2 separate regions of the Homo sapiens genome follow, and region 1 is reported to be linked to region 2. Evidence: microRNA targets listed by miRTarBase, many of them from high-throughput screens and not tested one by one. Region 2 holds a microRNA gene; the other region holds the end of a gene's coding sequence.

Region 1 (7,000 bases), not on the chromosome of region 2:
CAAAGCATCAGATCTAAGCCAGATTGGTTCCAGATTTTTGATATTTTGCTCATTGAGTTTATCTTAGAAGCAGGGGTAGCTTTTGCCAGCAGCAAATTCCAGGTAGTTACTCCTTTTAGAAGTTAGAATTTATTCATTTTGCAGGGAAGTGGTGAACTGGGGAGTCAGACAAGAGCATCATGCTTCTTAAAAGCCCAGACCCCTGGCTATAACACATCGAAGATTCTCAGAAGAGAATTGAGGAGCGGACAGGCGCCACACTCCGTTGTGGTCACTGCCTCTTCCTGGCCCACCACACTCCTGTCCTCTGCATGTACTGAGAGCTCTGTCCAGGATGCCAGGGTCCTGCCTCGGCAGAGAGGCGGTGCCAGATGCCCCACAGCAGCTGGTGGGAGTGCCCACAGCTGGAGGGCAGGGGAGGAGCCTGGCCTCTGGCTGGTGTTTCCTTCCCAGCTCTCAAGAACTGGAGACTTTGGTTACAGAAGTGAAGGCTGCTCCCTCACAGACTTCCTAGTGTCCGATGGTACCACATGGAAGGATCAGAGTTTTGAAGGACTGGGCCAGAACCCAGATAGGGCACAAGGCTGCCAGCGCCTGCATTGAGGGAGCTATGATGTGACGGGGGCTCCTGCAGAAGATGGCCTTCCTTGTACAGGTGTGGGGCAGCCTGTGGATGGGCAGTGGGAAGATGGGGGGTCCTCGGAGCTGGAGGTGCCCAGCGGTTTAGGAGGCTGTGCTTGGCACATCTGTAGCCCCAAAGCTATATGTTGAGATCACTGGCACCCAGAGGAGAGACCCAAAAGGGGCAAGAGAACATCTTCCAAGCACTTGCCACTGGCAAGGAGGGTGCTGCCGGCTATTTCCGTGGGAGGTGGGTGAAGACATTTAACCTGGGCTTCCCCAGCAGAAGGAGGTGCCATTGCAGGGACCAGTCTTGGGCTGAGACCCTAGCAAAGGCTTCCTCTGGCAGGGCTGCAGGTCTAGGGTCTGTCTCTGCCTGCTGCGGGCCTGATTAACGCCAGTACTTTCCTTTCCCCAGAGTCGGATGGCAGAGAGCTTGCGCCTCTTTGACTCCATCTGCAACAACAACTGGTTCATCAACACCTCACTCATCCTCTTCCTGAACAAGAAGGACCTGCTGGCAGAGAAGATCCGCCGCATCCCGCTCACCATCTGCTTTCCCGAGTACAAGGGCCAGAACACGTACGAGGAGGCCGCTGTCTACATCCAGCGGCAGTTTGAAGACCTGAACCGCAACAAGGAGACCAAGGAGATCTACTCCCACTTCACCTGCGCCACCGACACCAGTAACATCCAGTTTGTCTTCGACGCGGTGACAGACGTCATCATACAGAACAATCTCAAGTACATTGGCCTTTGCTGAGGAGCTGGGCCCGGGGCCCGCCTGCCTATGGTGAAACCCACGGGGTGTCATGCCCCAACGCGTGCTAGAGAGGCCCAATCCAGGGGCAGAAAACAGGGGGCCTAAAGAATGTCCCCCACCCCTTGGCCTCTGCCTCCTTGGCCCCACATTTCTGCAAACATAAATATTTACGGATAGATTGCTAGGTAGATAGACACACACACATGCACACACACACATCTGGAGATGGCAAAATCCTCTAAAATGTCGAGGTCTCTTGAAGACTTGAGAAGCTGTCACAAGGTCACTACAAGCCCAACCTGCCCCTTCACTTTGCCTTCCTGAGTTGGCCCCACTCCACTTGGGGGTCTGCATTGGATTGTTAGGGATAGGCAGCAGGGCTGAGGCAAGGTAGGCCAACTGCACCCCTGTCGCCTGGAGGAGGGCCAGCTCGCTGCCCGAGCTCTGGCCTAGGGACCTTGCCGCTGACCAAGAGGGAGGACCAGTGCAGGGTCTGTGCACCTTCCCTGCTGGCCTGCACACAGCTGCTCAGCACCACTTTCATTCTGGACCTGGGACCTTAGGAGCCGGGTGACAGCACTAACCAGACCTCCAGCCACTCACAGCTCTTTTTAAAAAACAGCTTCAAAATATGCAGCAAAAACCAATACAACAAAACGAGTGGCACGATTTATTTCAAACTAGGCCAGCTGGGATTCCAGCTTTTCTTCTACTAGTCTGATGTTTTATAAATCAAAACCTGGTTTTCCTTCTCTGACATTTTTTTTTTGTTTTGTTTTTTGGTTTTTTTTTTTTTTTGGCCAAATCTCGTGGTGTTTCGCAGAAAAAAATCCAGAAAATTTCAAATGCAGTTGAGTATTCTTTTTTAAATGCAGATTTTCAAAACATATTTTTTTTCAGGTGGTCTTTTTTGTGTCTGGCTTGCTGAGTGTAAAAGTTGTTATCTGGACGATCTGTCTCTCTGCTCCAAAGAAATTTTGGAGTGAGTGGCAGTCCTGCGCCAGCCTCGCGGGACACGTGTTGTACATAAGCCTCTGCAGTGTCCTCTTGTTAATGGTGGGGTTTTCTGCTTTGTTTTTATTTAAGAAAATAAACACGACATATTTAAAGAAGGTTCTTTCACCTGGGAGCAAATGAACAATAGCTAAGTGTCTTGGTATTTAAAGAGTAAATTATTTGTGGCTTTGCTGAGTGAAGGAAGGGGAGCAAGGGGTGGTGCCCCTGGTCCCAGCATGCCCCGCGCCTGAGACTGGCTGGAAATGCTCTGACTCCTGTGAAGGCACAGCCAGCGTTGTGGCCTGAGGGAGGCCCTGCTGGGACCCTGATCTGGGCCTTCCTGTCCCAGGGCCTATGGGCAACTGCGTTGAAAGGACGTTCGCCAAGGGCCGTGTGTAAATACGAACTGCGCCATGGAGAGGAGAGGCACTGCCGGAGCCCTTGCCAGATCTCCCTCCCTCTCTCCGTGCAGTAGCTGTGTGTCCGAGGTCAGTGTGCGGAATCACAGCCAAGGACGTGAAGAGATGTACGGGGGAAAGAGAAGCTGGGGATTGGATGAAAGTCAAAGGTTGTCTACTTTAAGAAAATAAAATACCCTGAATGGAGCCCAGCATTGTCCCAGTGTGCTATGTGTGTAGCTGACCTGTGGCTGGACTTGGTGCCATCTGGAAGGGCAGCCGGGGACACCTCCATTCTGAGGTCCCATATTCCAAACCCCACCCCTATACCTCCACACATTTAGGTAGAGTCATTTTGCAATGAACATCACAAATAAACATCACGAGAGGAAAGAAACTGCAAAGAGGGGAAACCTGCCAGGTCCATGCAGTCCTGGTGTGGAGGTCTGGGGGTGATGATGACTCCTGCCCCTCCCGCTGCCCCCAAGACCCCACCCAACACTGACCCAGGCTGTGCCATACCCTGGACCCCTCCCACCATGTGGACACCTCAGCCAATGTCAGAGTCATCCTGCAGAGTGGAAGAGGTGCCCTGAGGGCCTGGAGGGTTCCTGTGCCCCCAGTAGTGTAGGGCAAACCTTGTAGGGTTTTGGAGAGGAGGGGTCCCTGAGCATGCAGTGCTCGCTGACTGGCTTGTGTGGTTAGAGGTATCTGGATATAGTGGAAAAGTGCCGATCAGAAGTCAACGGAGTGCATTCACCGAGGGCCTGCTGCGAACCAGGCACGGAGCCGGGCTCCTTACTAATGATTTTATGTAACACCCCACCTCAGCAGGTTGCCAGAGGTGCCCATTTTACAGATGAGGAAAGGTGCCTGAGGTCAGGGAGCAGTCAAGCCAGGATTCACCAGGCCAGGGAGCTGTTGCTCCCACTGGAGGAGCAGAGACGCTGATCTTTCCTCCTGCTGGAGTCCTTGCCTGGCTTGGCACCTGCACAGGATGGAAGCCTACAGGGAGCAGCACAGAACCACCCTGCAGCCTCCTCCTCAAAGCAGGACCTCAAGCAAAGTGGGGGGTCGGCAGGCACACACACGCATGCATGCACACAAGCACATGCACACACGCGCAGATACGCACGCAGCCCTGGTGCTGTCACCGCCCCATCCCTACTCCTAAGCCCACGCAGGGACTCCCTTCACACCTTCCTACGTCACCAAACAGCCAGAACCCAGAGGGGCTTTTGTTTCTGAAGAAATAACGTGTGACTTAAAATCGTTGAGACTTATTTTGTGCTTTTAATGCCAACTGTGAAAAGAGCAGTAATTTCGCCGTGAGCATCTTTAATCTAAAAATACATGGCTAAAGGGAGAAAGGGATTGAGCCTCCCTTCCTAATGTGTGCAAAGATCAGAGGAGGCCTTCCCTGGAGGGAGGTTTCTCCCGGTTCCCAGAACCTAGCCAGGAGTCTCCAGTTCCCCCATAGGCTGCAGAGAAACCTCAGGCGCTGTCGACCTCTCTGGCCCCGTCCTCCCCTGCAGTTCACCTGCACTGGTTCTCCTCCTGAGCCTGCCTTGTTCCGCTCTTGCCCCCAATGATCCCTTTGCCTAGCATGTCCTTCCCCATCCTCACAGCTCAAAGTCACCTGGGCAGCTTCTTGGAAGTCTCCTCCTTCCCTGCATTCCATCTGTCAGGGCTCCAGGGTCGAGTGGGAAGGGGTGTTGGAAACTCCATTGAGCAGCTCAAGGCCAGCGCCTCTGACCCACCTCATTCCTCCAAACAATGCCCCATGGAGAAGGCGCATGCTGAGCTGGGATGGTCCAGGAGTCTTAGCCAACGGGAGGTAAGCACCAGGACTCACCAAGGTTGCTGGTGAGAGGAGGCTAGAGTAGGTGGCAGGGTGCCTGAAGGGGAGGACCTGGGGATGGCTGGGCCAGCCCTGCCCACTGCAGGTGACTAATCCCGCCTTGTCCTACTTCACGCAGCCCCAGCCTCCTTTCCCAGGACCCACCATCATGTGGCTCCCTGTGGGATATTGCCATCCTCACCTATAGCCCACGTGGTCACCCTGGTGGTGCAATGGGTCAACAACAGTGGTCACGATAATCCCAGCTCTCCTCAGTGACTGCTCACTGGGGGGCACACTCATGGGAGGCCAAGATGCTTGATTCCATTCTACAGAAGTGGAAGCAGAGACCAGGAGAGGCGATGACTTATCAGCATCACACAATGTGACCCCACCAGGCCAGGACCTGAGGGGCTTTACTCTGTCCACATTCCCCAGATCCCCACAGTGGCAACAGGCCCTGGCACCCTACTTCCAACGTCAGCCCTCCAGAACAAATGGTCCATCTGGCTCAGGGGACAGTGCCAGGAAGGGCTGCACTGCACCATGAGGACTTGAGGCAACACTGAGGCTGGACCTCACCCTGGATGAGCTCACCTCACCCAGATGAGCCTGACGAGATGGGGATGCCTGACAGGCCGGGAACCAAGAGGCCAGAGTGTCCCTATCAGTGACCATCATTCCTGCTAAGTCCAGGAATGGGGTACAACTACCCACCAAAGACTGTCAGGCTGAGGATGTGCCTGGGGTTCTGGTGCACCCTGCCCTGAGGGCAGGCAAGACAGAAAAGGGCCTGCTCCTCTAGGGCAGCTGGCCTCCACCCCTCACCCTGTGGCATCAAGGGGAGGAGGAGGAGGAGGCTGCTCTGGGTCCATCGAAGGAAGCTGGGTGTCCACGGGTGGCTGCTGAAGAGGGACAGGGTGCAGTGGTGGCCCACCCAAGGCCACTAGCCTGGAATGAGACATACGGCTCACTGCAGTGGGAGCACCTACTTTGCTTCTCCAGCAGCCCACGTACCTGGGGTTCAGATGACATTGGGTGCATTCTGGGTGGTATAGCTGTAGACCCCCAGATTTCTCCCTAGCTTAGATGCTATGACTCCAGGGATGTCCCCTGAACCCCCAAATGACTTGGATCAAACTGCATCCAGACATTTCACCCGCGGCACCCTCCCCTTCCCAAGCCCAGTTCTCCTTTCCAAGGTCACGGAGCCAATTTCCAGAGGCAGGGCCCAGGCGCATCCTTGCTGCCTCCCTCCTCCTCTCGGGCTGGTGCTCTCCTCCGGGCTGGGAGGGTCATCCATCTCCACCCCCGGGCTGCACACGTGTGGAGTCAGGGTCAGAACAGGCCCCATCATGCTGCTGCTAAAGCTGGGCTGGGGTCTCAGAGCCTGGCACAAGGAGAGGGAGACTGGAGGCAGGGCCAGAACAGACTCACAGGTGTGCCCAGTCAGGACCAGTGGGATGGTAGAGGGATACTTCCGGGGGACCCTGAGCTGTTCAACTGCACCCCAAAATCTGGTTAGAGAAGAATTGTCAATTTCAGCCACAGAACTCTCTCTCCCACAAAAATGAAACCTGTTTTCTCATGGGGTTCTACTCCATTCCTGGACTTAGCAGGAATGATGGTCACCGATAGGGACACTCTGGCCTCTTGGTTCCTGGCCTGCCAGGCCTCCCCCTCTCATCGGGCTGGGGAGCAGAAGCAGACCCTGTGCATCACTCAGGGCCCAGCTGGCAGGGAGCCTGGGCTGGCAGCCTGTGTGTGACATCTGTCTCTACAATCCTATTTTCTCCTCTCCTGACACGGCACCACCACGGCGCATGAGTAGCCAGCCTGGAAGGAACTTAGAGGAATGCGTGTGGGTGAGCGCAGCAGCTTGGGCCCAGGGCCCCTGCAGGGCCAGGGCCCACTTGGGACAATCCTCAGTCCTGGGGTGCCCCCTCCTGGTTACTCTGGGAAATCATGCAAGTCAGACTTGGCCAGAGCAAGGATTCTGAAACCACTCTCCCAGACACCCATGACACAGGGGAAGAAACTGAGGCACGGTGGCCAGAACAAAACAGGGGCCCAACACATACTGTCAAATGAATGAAGGAATGAGCAAGCAGGTAAGTGAACTGTAGCAAGAAGACAACCAGCAATTGATCCTTTAAAGTATGACATAAAACCTACTAAACAGCCAATATTTGTTGAGCGCTAGCCACATGCCAGGCGCCCTGCCAGGTGCAGAGGGTGCCATGGTGAAAACGGCCTTCCAGTGTGGCCACTGATAGGAAACCATACCAATGGCCACCAGCATTCACTGGGAGCCAGCTAAGCCCTGCTCAGAGACTGTCCCAGCTAAGCCACACAGGTGACACCCACGTTCCCACAGGTGAT
Region 2 (7,000 bases):
TTTCCCTCCAGAGGAGGGGGAGAGAAGAGAGTAGCAAGGGAACAGCAAAGAAAGAGAAAGGAGAAAGAAGGGGGAAGCAGGGAGCGAGGAGACAGGACTGGGAGCTGGGAGGGAGGTGGGAGGGGTGCAGGCCCTTGTACCTGTGTTGATATTCACAGCAAAGGCGTCCTCCTGGTTGGGCACCAGGCGATCAGTGTCGTCCTTGGCCACAATGCCGACAATGTGGTACTCTAGCTTTGGGTTGAGGTCGTGGTCAATGGCCGTGATATTGGCAATGACAGTGCCTGGCTCAGCCGACTCCAGCACGCTCACTGTCTGGATGGGGTTGAGGAACTCGGGGCGGGAGTCATTGATGTCATCGATCAGAATGGTGACAATGGCTGTGCCCGAGAGAGGAACGGTGCCCCGGTCGGTGGCCACCACCGTTAGCCTGTAGGACTCCTGCTCCTCTCTGTCGATGGTGGCATTACCAACACGGATGACCCCGGTGACCAGATGAATGAGGAAGCGGTCCTGAGCCCCAGCTTCTATTCGGTAGACCAGCTCCCCATTGAGGCCACTGTCCTCATCTGTGGCTGTGACTTGAAGGACTGAGAATCCTGTTGGAGAGGGAAAAGGGAGTAGCTGCGCACAGTGGCCTCTTCCAGAAAGATCTACCAAGACACATTTGTTGGTGATCTTCTCAAGTCCCCTTCTCATGACAGCCTTGACAGCATTTTCTTTTATACCTTTTTCATACTTGCAATTTTATAGGAAAATGGCATGTTATTTTATTTTATATTCTTTGATTAAACAATATTTTATAATGTAATAATTAGTTGTATCTTCTGCAAATGGTCTGCTTTTGTCTTTTGTCCATTTTTCTGTCAATTATACAAGTCACATAATTATGACAACTTGAGACATATATATATATATATATATATATTTTTTTTTTTTTTTTTTTTTTTTTTTTTTTTTAGATGGAGTCTTACACTGTCACCTAGGCTGGAGTGCAGTGGTGTGATCTCGGCTTACTGCAACCTCTGCTTCCCAGGTTCAAGTGATTCTTATGCAGCAGACTCCTGAGTAGCTGGGATTACAGGCACCCACTACCATGCCTGGCTAATTTTTTGTATTTTTAGTAGAGAAAGGGTTTCTCCATGTCAGGCTGGTCTGGAACTCCAGACCTCAAGTGATCCACCTGCCTCAGCCTCCCAAATTGCTGGGATTACAGGCGTGAGCCACCTCGCCTGGACCAAGACAAATATACTTTTTGGTTTGTTGTTTGCCTTTCAATATTGGCTATAATTATTTGATGTAACAAGGTTTAAATTAGCATGCATAGAAATTTAATATTTTTCCTCTTAAGTTCTTTTCTTTTATGCTTAGAACCTTCTTACCCAGAAATGAGTTATTCACCTAAGTTTTCTTCATTTATTGTTTAGTGTTTTCTACTTTTTAATATTTTCTTTTGGTTTTTATTTTGGTGTCTGACATGGGGGAGAATCTACACTAAATATTACATTATTATTATATTAGATTACATACAGATTATAATAATTGGATGTAATTGATTAGATTAAATAGGTTTTTGCACACTGAATAAGTAGCTTCCCCATTGGCCTCATTGCTTCCTTTATCACATCATATTTTATTCTTTAATTTACCAGTATCTGTTTCTGGGCTACTTTGTCCTGGAGTCTTGTGCCCATATTGCATGGCCTTAAATACTGTAGCTTTATAATATGTTATAAAATCTGGTAAGCCAAATCTGGCTTATTATACTTATGTTTTTCAAAATTTTCTTATTCTTCCAGAAGTTATATTTGATTTTGATGGGAATCATGTTGATCCTATTTTGACTTTAAAATAGTCAGTCTTTCCATCTGGGAATTCAAATGGAGAATACTTAGGAATCTTGTAGGCCAGGCGTGGTGGCTCACACCTGTAATCCCAGCACTTTGGGAGGCTGAGGCGAGTGGATCACCTGAGGTCAGGAGTTTGCGACCAGCCTGGCCAACAGGGTGAAACCCCGTCTCTACTAAAAATACAAAAATTAGCTGGGTGTGGTGGTGGGCGCCTGTAATCCCAGCTACTCGGGAGGCTGAGGCAGGAGAATCACTTGAACCTGGGAGGCTGAGGTTGCAGTGAGCCGAGATTGTGCCATTGCACTCCAGCCTGGGCAACAAGAGCAAAACTCCGTCTTAAAAAAAAAAAAAGAAAAGAAAAGAAAAAGAAAGAAAGGAAAAAAGAATCTTGTTTTGCAGGCAAGATACAGAAGCTCAGAGGAGGGAAGCAGGGGCCCAGGTCTCCTGACTCCCTCTCCAGTGTGTTCTACACTCACCCTGCTGCCCATCTTTCTCCCCACTGGAGGCAAACTCCGTGTCCAACCTGAGGCTCCAGTCCCCTGTGACCACCAACCGGCCCCTGGTTGTGGGGTGCTGGGGCCTGTCCCCTGCTTACCAGGCGGGCAGTTCTCTAGCAGATGGACAGTGAGGGTGGCAGGGCTAAAGGTGGGCCGGTTGTCATTGTCATCCAGGATGGTGATGAGCAGGTGGGCCGTGCTGTTGAGCAGCCCGATGTCCTCAGCCAGCAGCAGCAGCTCCAGGATGGGTGGCGAGAATGCCTCCCGGTCAATGATGACACCTGACCTCACGGTCACCACACCTGGCACCCGGTGCCGCCAGCCAGGGAAACACACAGAAAAGGGGTGCGGTGGGAAGACAGGGCAAGAACCAACAGGGAGAGAGCAGAGAAAGACAGGGGCACCATGGGACAGAGATGAAAGAGGAGCAGAGGCAGTAACAAAATGACTTTCTCCCCCACAGGCTCAACCACCCGTGCTGAGGGAGGGCCCCATGCATTTCCTGTGGTTGTCCCCTCTGCAGGTGCCCTCTGCTGTCTTCAAGACTCTTGCCTGGGAAGAGTGACCCAGGGCACAGGGTTGACCGTCTCTGTTGACAGATGTGCTTTCCTGTCGGCACCTGTCACCAAAGCGGCCTCCTGTCCAGGACCAGACGGATGTGGCATGGTCTGGTTGGAGGACAGGAAAGTCGCTCTGGCTACTTCTGCTGGACTAGGGGCCTGAGCCTCTGGCCTGCGCATGGGGAGATGACGGGAGTGGGCTGGGGGGCTCCCGGCCCAGGCTGAGAGTTCGTGCACCAACAGAGGTCCTGTGTATCGTCTCCAAGCCTCTTCCCACGTCCCCCTGCCAGGCCACTGGGTGATATAACCCAGCTGCAAGATGGGGACTCTGGGCTGTGAAAAATGGGGTCTCCACGGACAGCCTGGGTCCAGCACTGAGAAGGGAGGCCCTCAATCCAGCAGTGTGGCCATCCCCACCCCAGAATCAGGCTGGGAGTGCTGGGTGGCACAGAGGCCTCACCGGTGCTGCTGTTGATGTCAAAGAGGCCACTCTGGGCACCCAGCAGCTGGTAGGTCACCACGGCGTAGATGTCTTGGTCTGCATCCAGGGCCAGGATGGGCCCATTGAGCACCGTGAGAGGGGTGCCTGGGCCAGAAGGAGAGGGGTCACCACAAGACCAACCCAGCCCCCTGCCCTCCCACCTCCCCTGCCCTGTCCCGGTGAGCCATGGCTGACGATGGATGAGAGGGGAGGGAGGTGAGGTGGACAGGGTGGGGAGGCCCTGGGGGCGGGCCTGCGGCAGCCTTGGCAGACTGAACGCAGATGCCTGGGGAGCGGCCTCAAAGCCCTGCTGGGGAGAAAACATGAGAGTGGTGAGCAAGGCCCCGGCTGCCCAGAGCCACATCTGCCTTCCCAGCAGCCTTTGAGGCTGGCCGCTCCTCGGGAGGGTCTGGGGCTCCCTGACATCCCCTCCCCATGTGTGGGTCTCGCCTGTCAACACATGTGTTCACACAATGCTCTGCCTTTGGGGGCCTGGCCATACATGACTAGAAAAACCCACTCATGTGTGCATCAAGTTCTGTGTTCACATGGCCACAGGCACTTGTCCAGGAGCACGCACAGGCCTGGGATTCCCTGGTTGTGCACTCGTGTGCCTCTGCAGGTGGGCATGTCTGCACACGAGCGCATCAGTGGGCACCCATGTACCTATATGTGTCTGTGCACATGTGTAACCCCACGCACATGCCTTGGTATGGACACACACGGGCACATGTGTGAGCATACACACAGACAGGTTTAAGAATGAAATTCACCTAGGGGGGATGCCCAGCCAGAGATGAGGAACAGGGGCTGGGGAGACTGGAGGAGTGCAGGTGCCACCTCAGGGGACATCACAGAGGAGATTCTGTCCCTCTGGAGGGAGGTGAGCCTGGTCAGTGCATGTGTGTGGGGAGAGGGCTACACTGGCCTACCCAGGACCCCCTGACCTCCCACTTCTAGTTATAGATGCTCCCCAGGGCTTCCAGAAGGCCCTGGGATGCCCTGCACTCCTGGGGTGGAGGGAGCAGTGAGGGGTGGACCCACTCCCCTCCGGGGTAGTCCTCACACCTTACATGCCCTTCTTGAGGGATGGTGGGGCAGCTCTCAGACCACCCTGGGGAACAATGACCACGACTGTCTCTTCCAACCAGACCTGTGGCTTCTTTGTGCTCATAGGAGGCCCGGGAGCCCCAGCCCACCATCTCCCGGAGCTGCACCCATCCTTCCCCTCCCGCACCCACTGGGGTCTAGGTTCAGCTATGCCGTTAGGCATAAGGGAGGTCCTCAGGCATCCCAGGCCCCAGTGGTGCCTGGCAACAGCAGGAGCTCCCGGGTGGGCCCAGCACCTACCAGCGGGAGAGTTTTCCATCACCTCTGCCTGGTAGGTGCTTTTAGTGAAGAGGGGGTGGTTGTCATTCTCATCAGAAAGGAAGATCAGAAGCAAGTCATAATCCTGCAAGGGGCAGAATGGGGCACGTTGTAGGCCATGCTCAGCAAAGTGCCCCCACCTAGGTGGGAGGAGGGTTGGGAGGTTGGGGATTGGGGCACAGAGGTGGATGATCAGAAAAGCCCACACCAACATGAACTCACATTTTTCAAAAGAAGACATACAAGAGGGCAACAAACATGAAAAAATGTGGCCGGGTGCAGTGGCTCATGCCTGTAATCCCAGCACTTTGGGAGGCCAAGACGGGCAGATCACGAGGTCAGGAGATCGAGACCATCCTGGCTAACATGGTGAAACCCCGTCTCTACTAAAAGCACAAAAAATTAGCTGGGCGTGGTGGCACGCACCTGTAGTCCCAGCTACTTGGGAGGCTGAGGCAGGAGAATGGCATGAACCCAGGAGGCGGAGCTTGCAGCGAGCGGATATCACGCCACTGCACTCCAGCCCAGATGACAGAGCAAGACTCCATCTCAAAAAAAAAGAAAAAAAGAAAAAATGCTTAGTGTTGCTAATCATCAGAGAAATGCAATAAGCCACAGTGAGGTACCCTCTCACACCAGTCAGAACGGCTATTATTAAAAAGTCAAAAAACAACATGCTGGGCATGGTGGCTCACGCCTGTAATCCCAGCACTTTGGGAGTCTGAGGTGGGCGGATCACTTAAGGTCAGGAGTTCGAGACCAGCCTGGCCAATATGGTGAAACCCTGTCTCTACTTAAAATACAAAAAAATTAGCTGGGCATGATGGCTTACACCTGTAATCCCAGCTACTTGGGAAGTTGAGACAGGAGAATCGCTTGAACCCAGGAGGCAGAGATTGCAGTGAGCCGAGATTGTGCCACTGTACTCCAGCCTGGGCAAGAGAGCAAGACACCATCTCAAGAAAAAAACAACAGACACTGGTGAGGATGCAGAGAAAAGGGAATGCTCATACACTGCTGGTGGGAATGTAAATTCCTTCAGCCACTGTGGCAAGCAATATGGAGATTTCTCAAAGAACTAAAGACAGAATTACCCTTCAATCCCACAATACCCCTCTACTGGGTACCTGCCCAAAGGGAAATACATCGTTATATCAAAAAGATACTTACACTCACATGTTTATCGCCACACTATTCACAATAGCAAAGATATGGAATCAATGTAAGTGTCCATCCACAGAGGACTGACTAAAGAAAATGTGGTATATAGACCATGGAATACTACTCAACCGTAAGAAAGAGTGAAGTCGTGTCTTTTGCAGCAACATGGATGGAACTGAAGGCCATTATCCTAAGTGAAATGACTCAGAAATAGAAAGTCAAATATTGCATATTTTCACTTATAAGTGGGAGCTAAATAATGTGTAACCATGGATATACAGAATGGAATAAGAGTCATTGGAGACTCAGAAGGGTGGGAGGATGGGAAGAGGGTGAGGGTTGAAAAATTATTTATTAGGTACAATGTTCACTGTTCAGTGAGTGGCAGTGAGTTCACAGTTCAGTGAACATTGGACATAATAGGTAGTTTTGGGTACACCTGATGGGTACACTAAAAGCCCAGTCTTCACCACTACACAATATGGACATGTTAAGAAACCTGTGCTTGTACTCCCTGAATCTAAAAAAAAAAAAAAAAAAAAAATCTGAAAAGCGCCCACACCAGGGTTCAAAGACCTGGGTTGAAGACCCTATTCTGGGTGATCTTGGGTGCCTCATTTCCCCTGTCTGGGTCTCAGTTTTCTAGTCTGGCAAATAGGGATTTAACTCCTTCACGGAGGTGTGGCAAATGGGATTGAATCCTGTTCCATCTCACTTCAGGCGGGAAGATGAGTCCTGTTTCTCGACCTTCAAGGCCTTCCTGTTGCCCTGGCTGGAGTTCATTCAAACTCTGCCAGTGCCTCACTTCACACTCGCAAACCTCAGAACCTCCAGTACCCCTGTGCACTGTCACCACCTCAGAGACAAGGGAACCAAGGTGCAGAGATGGGGAGTGCCCATTCAGAGCCAAGTGGTGAGTTAGCAGCAGAGTGGGGCTTAGCCCCTAAGCCCACCGAGTCCTGCCACTCAATGCTGCTTTTACCCGGGGCCCTCCTGAAGCCAGGCAAGGGAGAGGAAAAATGAGAGCAGAAAAGAGAAAAAGTGGGGGCAAAAATGAGGGAGTAGAAGCTGGGCATGGTGGCT

Evidence for each region. The annotated mature microRNA hsa-miR-7152-3p reads UCUGGUCCUGGACAGGAGGC and lies in region 2 at 2,981-3,000, opposite strand. An mRNA with a match to its seed (bases 2 to 7 or 8) in the 3' UTR can be bound and repressed. Matches are read on the target gene's strand: a 7mer-m8 pairs with bases 2 to 8, a 7mer-A1 pairs with bases 2 to 7 and ends in A, and an 8mer does both.
Region 1: miRTarBase lists GNAZ as a target of hsa-miR-7152-3p. Seed matches in the 3' UTR shown: 7mer-m8 at 1,863-1,869.

The regions. Positions count from the first base shown.
Region 1 is chr22:23,122,048-23,129,047 of GRCh38, forward strand. It overlaps GNAZ (G protein subunit alpha z), which reads left to right. Exons shown (of 3, transcript NM_002073.4): 3 at 1,040-2,985. The coding sequence ends at 1,384. The region is part of intron 4 of RSPH14 (radial spoke head 14 homolog); the gene reads right to left. Among named protein-coding and RNA genes, the nearest start is that of RSPH14, 16 kb to the right of the region's middle. RefSeq lists enhancers at 1-466, 4,117-4,994, 5,359-5,948, 5,949-6,536, 6,393-6,672.
Region 2 is chr10:71,786,781-71,793,780 of GRCh38, reverse strand. MIR7152 (microRNA 7152) reads right to left here and starts at 3,034; the gene lies at 2,981-3,034. It overlaps CDH23 (cadherin related 23), which reads right to left. Exons shown (of 70, transcript NM_022124.6): 45 at 4,739-4,841; 46 at 3,368-3,493; 47 at 2,446-2,649; 48 at 141-599. RefSeq lists an enhancer at 2,594-3,493.